Regions from separate parts of the Homo sapiens genome. Here region 1 is reported to be linked to region 2. Evidence: microRNA targets listed by miRTarBase, many of them from high-throughput screens and not tested one by one. Region 2 holds a microRNA gene; the other region holds the end of a gene's coding sequence.

Evidence for each region. The annotated mature microRNA hsa-miR-3152-3p reads UGUGUUAGAAUAGGGGCAAUAA and lies in region 2 at 2,235-2,256, shown strand. An mRNA with a match to its seed (bases 2 to 7 or 8) in the 3' UTR can be bound and repressed. Matches are read on the target gene's strand: a 7mer-m8 pairs with bases 2 to 8, a 7mer-A1 pairs with bases 2 to 7 and ends in A, and an 8mer does both.
Region 1: the mRNA of CCDC69 is a reported target of hsa-miR-3152-3p. Seed matches in the 3' UTR shown: 8mer at 1,890-1,897.

The regions. Positions count from the first base shown.
Region 1 is chr5:151,179,530-151,183,924 of GRCh38, forward strand. It overlaps CCDC69 (coiled-coil domain containing 69), which reads right to left. Exons shown (of 9, transcript NM_015621.3): 9 at 1,523-4,085. The coding sequence ends at 3,908. It also overlaps the pseudogene PDGFRL2P. Among named protein-coding and RNA genes, the nearest start is that of ANXA6, 24 kb to the left of the region's middle.
Region 2 is chr9:18,571,116-18,575,510 of GRCh38, forward strand. MIR3152 (microRNA 3152) reads left to right here and starts at 2,191; the gene lies at 2,191-2,264. ADAMTSL1 (ADAMTS like 1) reads left to right here. Exons shown (of 29, transcript NM_001040272.6): 4 at 2,915-3,151.

The DNA of each region.
Region 1 (4,395 bases), not on the chromosome of region 2:
TCACCACTTTCAGTAGCCCTGAAAAGGAGGCCAGTGGCACCCAGTGAGGGTGCCCTGTGGAACCCAGTGAGGGTGCCCTGTTCCCCCCGAACTTAAAACACTCTGGCTCCACCTCGCTCCAGTCATTTGTGTAGCCTGAGCTGGCACATAGCGACTTCCCGAGTTCATCTCTCCATTCCCTGCAGTGGCTGCAAGGATGTGATAAAGGTGAACTCCACAGAGGCCTTAGGCATTGGAAAGGGTAAAGGATCATTCTCCCACTTGTCAGAAGAGGAAACTGAGACCCAAGAAGGGGAAAGGAGCATACAGACGGTCAGGAGACACTGGCTTGGCTTTACCAGGATTTCCCCAACATGTTCTTTAGAAGGGTGGAATACCAGAAAGTTCCCTCCCACCCTACCTCACTTCCTCTTATAACCATTACCTGTCTTGGAGATTCAAAATACACAGGTACATGTAACAGACTCAGTGGTCGGAGTCTACCCAATTTCACTTTGCTTTTCTTAATGTTTCCAAAACACTTTTGGTAGTAAAATTCTTCCTCTTCCTCTCCTTTGAGGAGGTAGCATCCCTACAGAAGCAGAGGGCCACAAAACCCACGTTGGGAAGTACTTCCCTGGACTGAGTTACCTCTGGACACTCTTTGAGAAGGGGAGGGAAACCCAGCTTTTCTCTGCAGACTTGAGAAGCTTAACGTTTTTCACAAAGAACCTGGCCTTTAAGGTGCTCTGACACCAAGCTGAAGTGTGACCTTGGGCAAGTCACTTCTCCTTTCCCCAAAGAGATAAATGGTGCCTCTTACCTGACCCTGGTGTGTGAGTCAGAGATGCACCTGGGGCAGCTGATGGACAGTCCGTTTTTATCCCCTACCGTTGGGCCAACCACTCTACATCAGTGAACAGGCCCATGTGGTACACGGGGAGAGCCAGGTACAGCAGGAGGCAGAGGGCACCCTGTATGTGGAGGGGACCTGGGCTAGGGATGCTGGTGTCTACACCTGCTGGGCCACCAACCTTCAGGGCACTGGTTTGGCCACCACCCATGTCCACGTGACTCGAGGTCCTCGTGTCTCCTCTACCCCTTCCTAGCTCCCTCCCTGGCCACAGGCATCTGGATGTGGAGCAATAGGCAGAATCAGGGGTAGGTACCTGTGGGAACATCAGTGTTTCTGATGCCAAAGAGGGGTCCTGCAGTGCAGAAGGTGACTTCTCATTCATCCTCGCAGTCTCTCCCACCCCATCCCTCTGTTTTCACCACTTACTTCAACCTCAGCCTCACTCCAAGCCTTGGTCTATTTTGAAGGCCATCCTTTAATCCAGGCTTCACCCTAGCCCCAGGCCCCACATCCACAATTAGGGCAAAGCAAGGGCCAGTGGGGCTTTGGTGCTTGAGGAGAGTGCCCAGAACCACGAGTGGGCTACCCAGGCCCCAGATTTACTCTTCAGAGATCCCCACCATTGGCAGAAGTCCTTGTGAAGACCCACCTCCCCACCCTCCCAGAAAAACACAAAAGTCACATAAATAAGGTGCCGCATGTTCTTTTTAGTTTCCATACATCGTCTGTCCCAGAGTGAGGAGAAGTTGATCTCCTTCCCACATCCACCACAGGCTGCGTGAGGGAAGCCTGGCTCCCCACAACTTGCTCCTTCTCCAGCCCTGCCCCTCTCAATTAAAACAATGCTTTCTTTTTTCTTTTCTTTTTTTTGAGACGGAGTCTTGCTCTGTCACCCGGGCTGGAGTGCAGTGGCGCGATCTTGGCTCACTGCAAGCTCCGCCTCCTGGGTTCACACCATTCTCCAGCCTCAGCCTCCCAAGCTGCTGGGACTACAGGCGCCCACCACCACGCCAAGCTAATTTTTTGTATTTTTTTAGTAGAGACAGGGTTTCACTGTGTTAGCCAGGATGGTCTCAATCTCCCAACCTTGTGATCCACCCACCTCGGCCTCCCAAAGTGCTGGGATTACAGGCGTGAGCCACTGTGCCTGGACTAAAACAATGCTTTCTAAAGCGCATTCTGCAGCCTGATGTGCCTGTGAGGTGAGAGGTGTGGGAGGGACAGAAGCTTTGTTCAAAGAGGTTTGGGAGAGGCTGGATACTTAGCTCCCTTCTTGTAAGTTTGCCACACACATTGGCATATTAAAGGTTCTGAGAAGTCATTCAGGTCACTGATCTGTTTAGGTGTCCCCAAATAACTTGGCCACCAATCATGTCTACTCCTGGACATTAGTTCAATAAACTAGTGTATCGCAGATGTGCTTTGCAAAAAGCTTCATGAAAAAGTACACATGTGATTCCCTCCAGGGCTTTCCTCGAGGCTCCTGGGTGACCTGTCTGACCATGGCTGGAGAATCAGCACAGCACTCCCCTAGCCTCACCTCTTCCCCCATTTGGCTGTGGAAATGGAGAAACACAGTCACCTCTGAACTTCTAAACCTAGAAACAGAAGGAGACTGTACACAGGGGAATACAGAAGGCAGTCTGGGATGATGTCACTATAGAATGACTGATGAAAAATGCAGATTGACTGTTCTGACGCTGGCTTAGGGCCTGGGGCTGAAGCTGGGGACCTTGAGCAAGGCCCTTTGACTCCTGTGATCTGTTTGCCATGTTGCCAATGAGGAATAGGAACCTGCTTCAAGGATCTTATGAGGACCAGGGGAGGGAGGGGTATGGAAAGCCTTTGATGCAAATGCTCTATGCAGAACAGGAGTTATAATTATAGTCTCCATTAGACATGAAGCTTCCTGAGAAGGATCCGAAATCCACAGACTATCAGGACTGGACGGCCTGCTGAGGTTAGTTACTCTAGCCACCCCTTTTCACTGATGGGGAAGCTGAGCACCAGGTTGTAAAAGCCTGGGCCTGGGATCAGGGGCAGTGGGAGGAGGAGTTAAGGCAGGGAGCAGGAATGAAAAAGAAACTAAGTGGGTGAGGGCCAGGGAGAGGAAGATTAAGTCACAGATCTGATTTTCCAGAGCCTGAAGAGAAAAACAGAGCAAAGGATAAGACCCGGATGACAGATGAGATCTAGATTCGACTCTGGGAACTGCTCCATGCCTTGGTTTCCTCATCTGTGCAGGGATGAGGTTCCAGCTCTGATAGATGAATGGACTCACAACCACCAAGCTTGCCCCTGTGCCCAGGTGGCACCAAGACTGAAGGGCCAGGAGGGCTGAGGGGATGCACCTTGCCTGGTAAAGGAAGAGGAGCTCTGGCTACTGTCCCTTGGTGGACACGACTCTGGCCCAGGAATGATGCCTCAGCTGGGGAGGCTGCCTGGCCCTGTCAGCCCCAAGGGCCTTCAGAGACCCCCTCTCTACCACTCACCTTCCCCACTCTGATTTGCGGGGTTTGTCCACACTCCCCCCAACCCCTACTCTGGCCTTCAGACAATCCTAGAATGGGACACTGCAGTGACATAAGAGTCCTTTGACCAGTCCCCCCACCATTTTAATGCAGGGGTAAACTGAGGCTCTGAGCAGGCCAGGGTGGAGTGGAAACACCTAGAGGAAGTTGATAAGTCAGCAAGTCGGCAGCAGAGCTGACAAGCTGGGACCAGGGGCTGTCTCCTTTATGTCAAATGGCCAGCGTGACACAGACTGCCCCTGGGAAAGCCTCGGAACTTCTCGGATTGGGACAGAGTGCTGGGGCAGGGAGGAAATGTCTCCTCTTGCTTATTCCCTTGGCCAACTCAAGGGAAGACGCTTCTCGGGGCCTCCAAAACCCTGTGGGTGATTCCATGTAACTCAAGGCCCCAGGGCTCACTGGGCACACACCCAGGATCTCCATCTCGCTCCCACCCTCGTTCCTTCCTGGAAAAGAACTGAGAGGCTCCTGCTGTCTTCTCCAGAAAAACCTTGGAAGGAGCTGTGACTTCAGGCGTCGTGGTGGGCCCAGGCCCTGCACCCTATGTGGCGAGGAAAGAGACCTCAGTGGGAGTGACAGGGGCCAGAGGGAAGGCAGGCGAGGCATTGGCCCCAAGGACCCGGTACAACAGCTCCTCCTTCTCCTGCTGGAGCTGTCGCCGCAGCTGCACCTCCTTCTCCAGGGCCTCACGCGTGAGAAGCAGGTCTTCTGACAGCTGCCTGTGGATGCACACAGAGCCCAGGGTTGCCTACTGGGAGCAGCTGCCACAGAGACCAACCCATTCCCCCAGGAAGCCTTCCTTAGATGGACCAGCAGCCTGCTGCAGGGTCCCCACTGCCCTCCTTGTTGGCCTGTATACAAGAGGCAATTCAATCTGTTGACCAAGGAGCGGGGGCCTCACAGACAGGCAGGCAGTTCTGAGCTGCTTCAAATCTCTGCTCTACCACTTAGCTATATAATCTTGAATAAGTTATTCATTCTTCTTAAATTTCAGTCTTCTCATTTGTAAAATGGGAAGAAGAAGAATAG
Region 2 (4,395 bases):
TTGAACAGAGGGGAATCATAGGAGACTCTGTAGAGGTTTTATGTCTGTACTAAGATGATATTGCATTATCAATTTAAAAACATAATTGACACTTTTATCAGAATTGGAAACGTGCAGAAAATTTTCCCTGGTTCATATTAAGAGGTCTCTTAATTATATCTTCTGCTCATTAAGGCAGAGGCGATTCAGCCTGACCCTTCTAACTGTTTCACTTGTATAGAAAAAGGAGGCAAAGGAAATTTTAAGAGGAGTTTGGAACCATTTCAAACAATTTCCTCAATGTTCTGCTTTATTGTATTTCAGTATAATGAAGTACTGTACCCCCAGTACAATGTACTCTACTTCTTCTGTACTTGTACTGAGTAATCAAGTGACTCCTGGGATGATAGGTACTATCAAACGAAAATACTGTATTTAAACATTGCTAAACTGTCAGTTCAACTTTAGACGCTCCCATTCAATGACCAGGAACTTGTGGATCATATAAAGGTAGGTTTATTAAACATGCTAAGCAGGAGAGAGCAGCACCTTGACAGAGACTCTATCGTATCTCAAGTGGGGAAATTTAAGGAAGGCTACGTGTAGAGTTTGGGGGCAGTTGTTAGTTATAGAGTTGTTTTAGGGCAGAAGTTAGTAAGTGAGGCCTAGGCAGATATTGGTAGAATTTGTAAATTAGGCAAGTGGAAGTCTTATCTTTGGAATGTGAGTTCATTAAGACAATATTAAATCAGTTTCTCTGTGCTCTAGAACATATGGTCTGAAAGGAGCTTGTGTTAAACATTTAAAGTTGTTTGTGGCCAGTTGCGGTGGCTCATGCCTATAATCCCAGCACTTTGAGAGGCCAAGGCAGGTGGATCACCTGAGGTCAGGAGTTCGAGACCAGCCTGGCCAACATGGCAAAACCCTGTCTCTACTAAAAATATAAAAAAATGAGCTGGGTGTGGGGGCACATGCCTGTAATCCCAACTGCTCAGAAGGCTGAGGTAGGAGAACTGCTTGAACCCAGGAGGCGGAGGTTGCAGTGAGCCGAGATCACGCCACTACACTCCACCCGGGGAGACAGAGCGAGACTCCTTGTCAAAAAAAAAAAAAATAAAGTTAATTTGTATTGTATGTCATGATTTGACACAATTTACCTGTGTTGTAATTCATAATATAGTTTTGCTGGTTGTAGGTAGTTTTTGTTTTATTTTACAAAATAAACGTGTAAACAGCCTGTATAGCACACATATTTATTTATTTATGGATCTTAAAAAATTTAAACTGCATCCTATTATCTAAAAAATTAATAATTGGTAAATTTTATTCATACTCTTTTCAGACAATATTCAAAATGTTAAGCCTTGCTGGGTGCCTGTGTATCTGTACCTATGTTATATACATTATTCTTTTCCTCTGCTACTATGGTTTATTCACTCTGAGAACACATAATACTAACAGTAAAATGTCTTTGACATTTTATATTGTATTTTGAACAATTTCATGTTCATCCTAAATAAATATTTGTTTCTACCCCACATTGCCTAGAAAGAATTTGTGCTCCCTCAACTACCAGAGCGTTATATGCTCTTTAGTAGTATCACTAATGTTTTGGAAAAGAGTCAAAATTTTCAGTGCTGTTTTAGAATGCTTATTTAAAGGTAAAGAGATTTTTCAGAGAAAGAAACCTTATATAAGAGAACTCTCACAATGATAATGTAGTAACAGGGAACTGCTGAAGGCTACATGGAAATCCTTTATTTAAAACAAAAAATTAGAATAAAAGCCTTTCTACAGCTGGAGAGTCGACGACAGTCTTCCATGGTAAATTTTAATCTGAAGGCTTGTAGAATAAGATAAACCTATCAAAAAGCCCTTCCAAGGGATAGGCAATATTTGCCTTTTTAAAATTAAATCTTACCTGCTTTTACTGAGATTTATTATTCATTAGATAATGGCCATTGTTAGCCATAGTTTTACATTTTAAATTGCCCTTTATGAAACTTACATCAAAAAGATTCTTATTTTCCACTGATCTCTAACAATATAATTTACAATTCAAATTGAGAGAATCTCCTCATACTCCATCCCTTTGCCTTCTGTGGCCTCATTAAATAATCATAGTAATAGCTACCATCTACTCAGTATATTCCTTGTGCATATATTTGGCCAGCATGAGTTCGTGAACTTCTCACAACAACCTTGAGAGCTGTGCAGAGTTATTGCCTCTGTTCTAACACAAGACTAGGCTTCCCTGTGTTAGAATAGGGGCAATAACTCTGCACTGCATTGCAGCCACCCACCCATCTAAGGAGGAAGTCCATGCTCTTTCCATTCTGCCATGCTGCCTTAAGCCAAAGCAATTCATATATAAATGGTTTCATATTTTTTGTTCCCCATGTTTAATTCTAGATACTATGCAACCTAAGTCCTAGACAAAAAATTACAACTCCACAAAAACTTTTTGAATGAAATTTTTATAACTTTTTACTGCTAGTTATTCAAATAAACAATTGTCATAGCTCTCAATATCAGAACTGAAAGAGACAAATAATTTCAACTAATCCTCTGACTTTACTAGGTTCTACTTATGAGGAAGTCAAAATGATAGTACAGTGTGGAAGAATTCATGAACCAATAGACAACTTTCAAAAAATGTATGTCCCACCTAATCAGAATATCTATTTCAAGCCAATTATTTTTCCATTTAAACTCAATCAGAAAATGTATTTTGAGGTGATTGCTTTATCAGATTTCTACATTTTGCAAGCCAAATAATCATATAACCTCTAAGATGATATTATAAGTTCCATCTATCATGACCAGGACATTTGTTTTGCTTTCTAAGACCTAAGCAGACCATATAGCTGCTCTGGTTTCATGTTTGGGGGTATCCTCCTAACCTTTGTATGTCCTTTCTCTCTTTTTTCTCCAGGACTGCCCACCAGAAGCAGGTGATTTCCGAGCTCAGCAATGCTCAGCTCATAATGATGTCAAGCACCATGGCCAGTTTTATGAATGGCTTCCTGTGTCTAATGACCCTGACAACCCATGTTCACTCAAGTGCCAAGCCAAAGGAACAACCCTGGTTGTTGAACTAGCACCTAAGGTCTTAGATGGTACGCGTTGCTATACAGAATCTTTGGATATGTGCATCAGTGGTTTATGCCAAGTAAGTGCTGATTTGTTCTCATTCAACTTGTCCAGAGGGTTTCAATGTCTTTGTGTAAATGGTTTACATAGTCTCACTCTCTGAATCACTCATCTTTACACTTTTTAGAGTTTGTAAATGGTGAAAGATTTGAAAATTAAGGTATGATTTCAGTGAAAAGTACCAAGTGTTGTATTGTGCGAAGGAAAAGTAGACTAGAGTTATTTTTCTTTCCTTGAGTGTCACTTGAATATAAAAGAATAAAAATTTTTGAATAGTGTTTATCAATTATGTACTAGACTTTGAAATTATCCCCTGGATTGGCTATTCCTGAAGTGTGTGTTTGTGTTTGTGTGTGTGTGTGTGTGTGTGTATTTAGAGACTGGATTTTCATTGACTCAGTTTCAGAATAAATCAGGTAAGACCAATTCTAAAATCCCCAAGTAAACTGTAGGAAAACTTGCTACTTTACTATAATTTCCATTGTATTGAAAATTCAGACACACTGTAGAGAAAGTCATGGAAGAGCCAGCTAGGTTGGACTTAAGCCAGTTAAATCTTTAAAACAGGATTACAAAAAGGTTTGATTTCTGGTATCCATCCATTCATCAATGTCTACTCTAGGTAGGGAATTAGTAAGGTGAAAAAGGGTTTGTATGTTTGTCATGTCTTTGCCATCTTTATTTTCAGGTCCACTTTTTGGATTAGGATTACCAGTCTAGTTTTTGGAGCAAGCAGTTGCTATTGTTTTTCTGTGTGCTGTATTTGACTATATGCTTTTATATTTCATGAAGCAGACACAAAATTTTGAGAGTATTTGCCTTTTCCAACATGGTGTCAGCTGAAATTTTCTCTCTTCAGAATGTATAATATCACGGCTAGGAATGTAAGAGAAATATATGTTTTAGTAATTTGTTGTTTCAAATTTATTTTTTTAAAACTTACATCTATATTTGGATGTAAAGGCAAAAACTGTAGTGTAAATGACTATAAGAGATGTGAGATGTCAGGCAAGGTTTTATGCATGCAAGAGGGAAACAAACATAGTCAACCTTCCTAAAGTTTAAAATCATGAGGCAGAGAAACTGATGTCATATAGGAGTTTGTCACTGATGAAACATATCTTAAGGTTTCCTTATATACAAGAGATATATGAATTTCAGGTGTAAATTTGAATGTGGAATTTTACTATTTTAAAGCTAGAAAGGGCCTTAGAGTTATTCAATCAACATTCTAAAAAGCAATATATCTGAATAAATCATTTC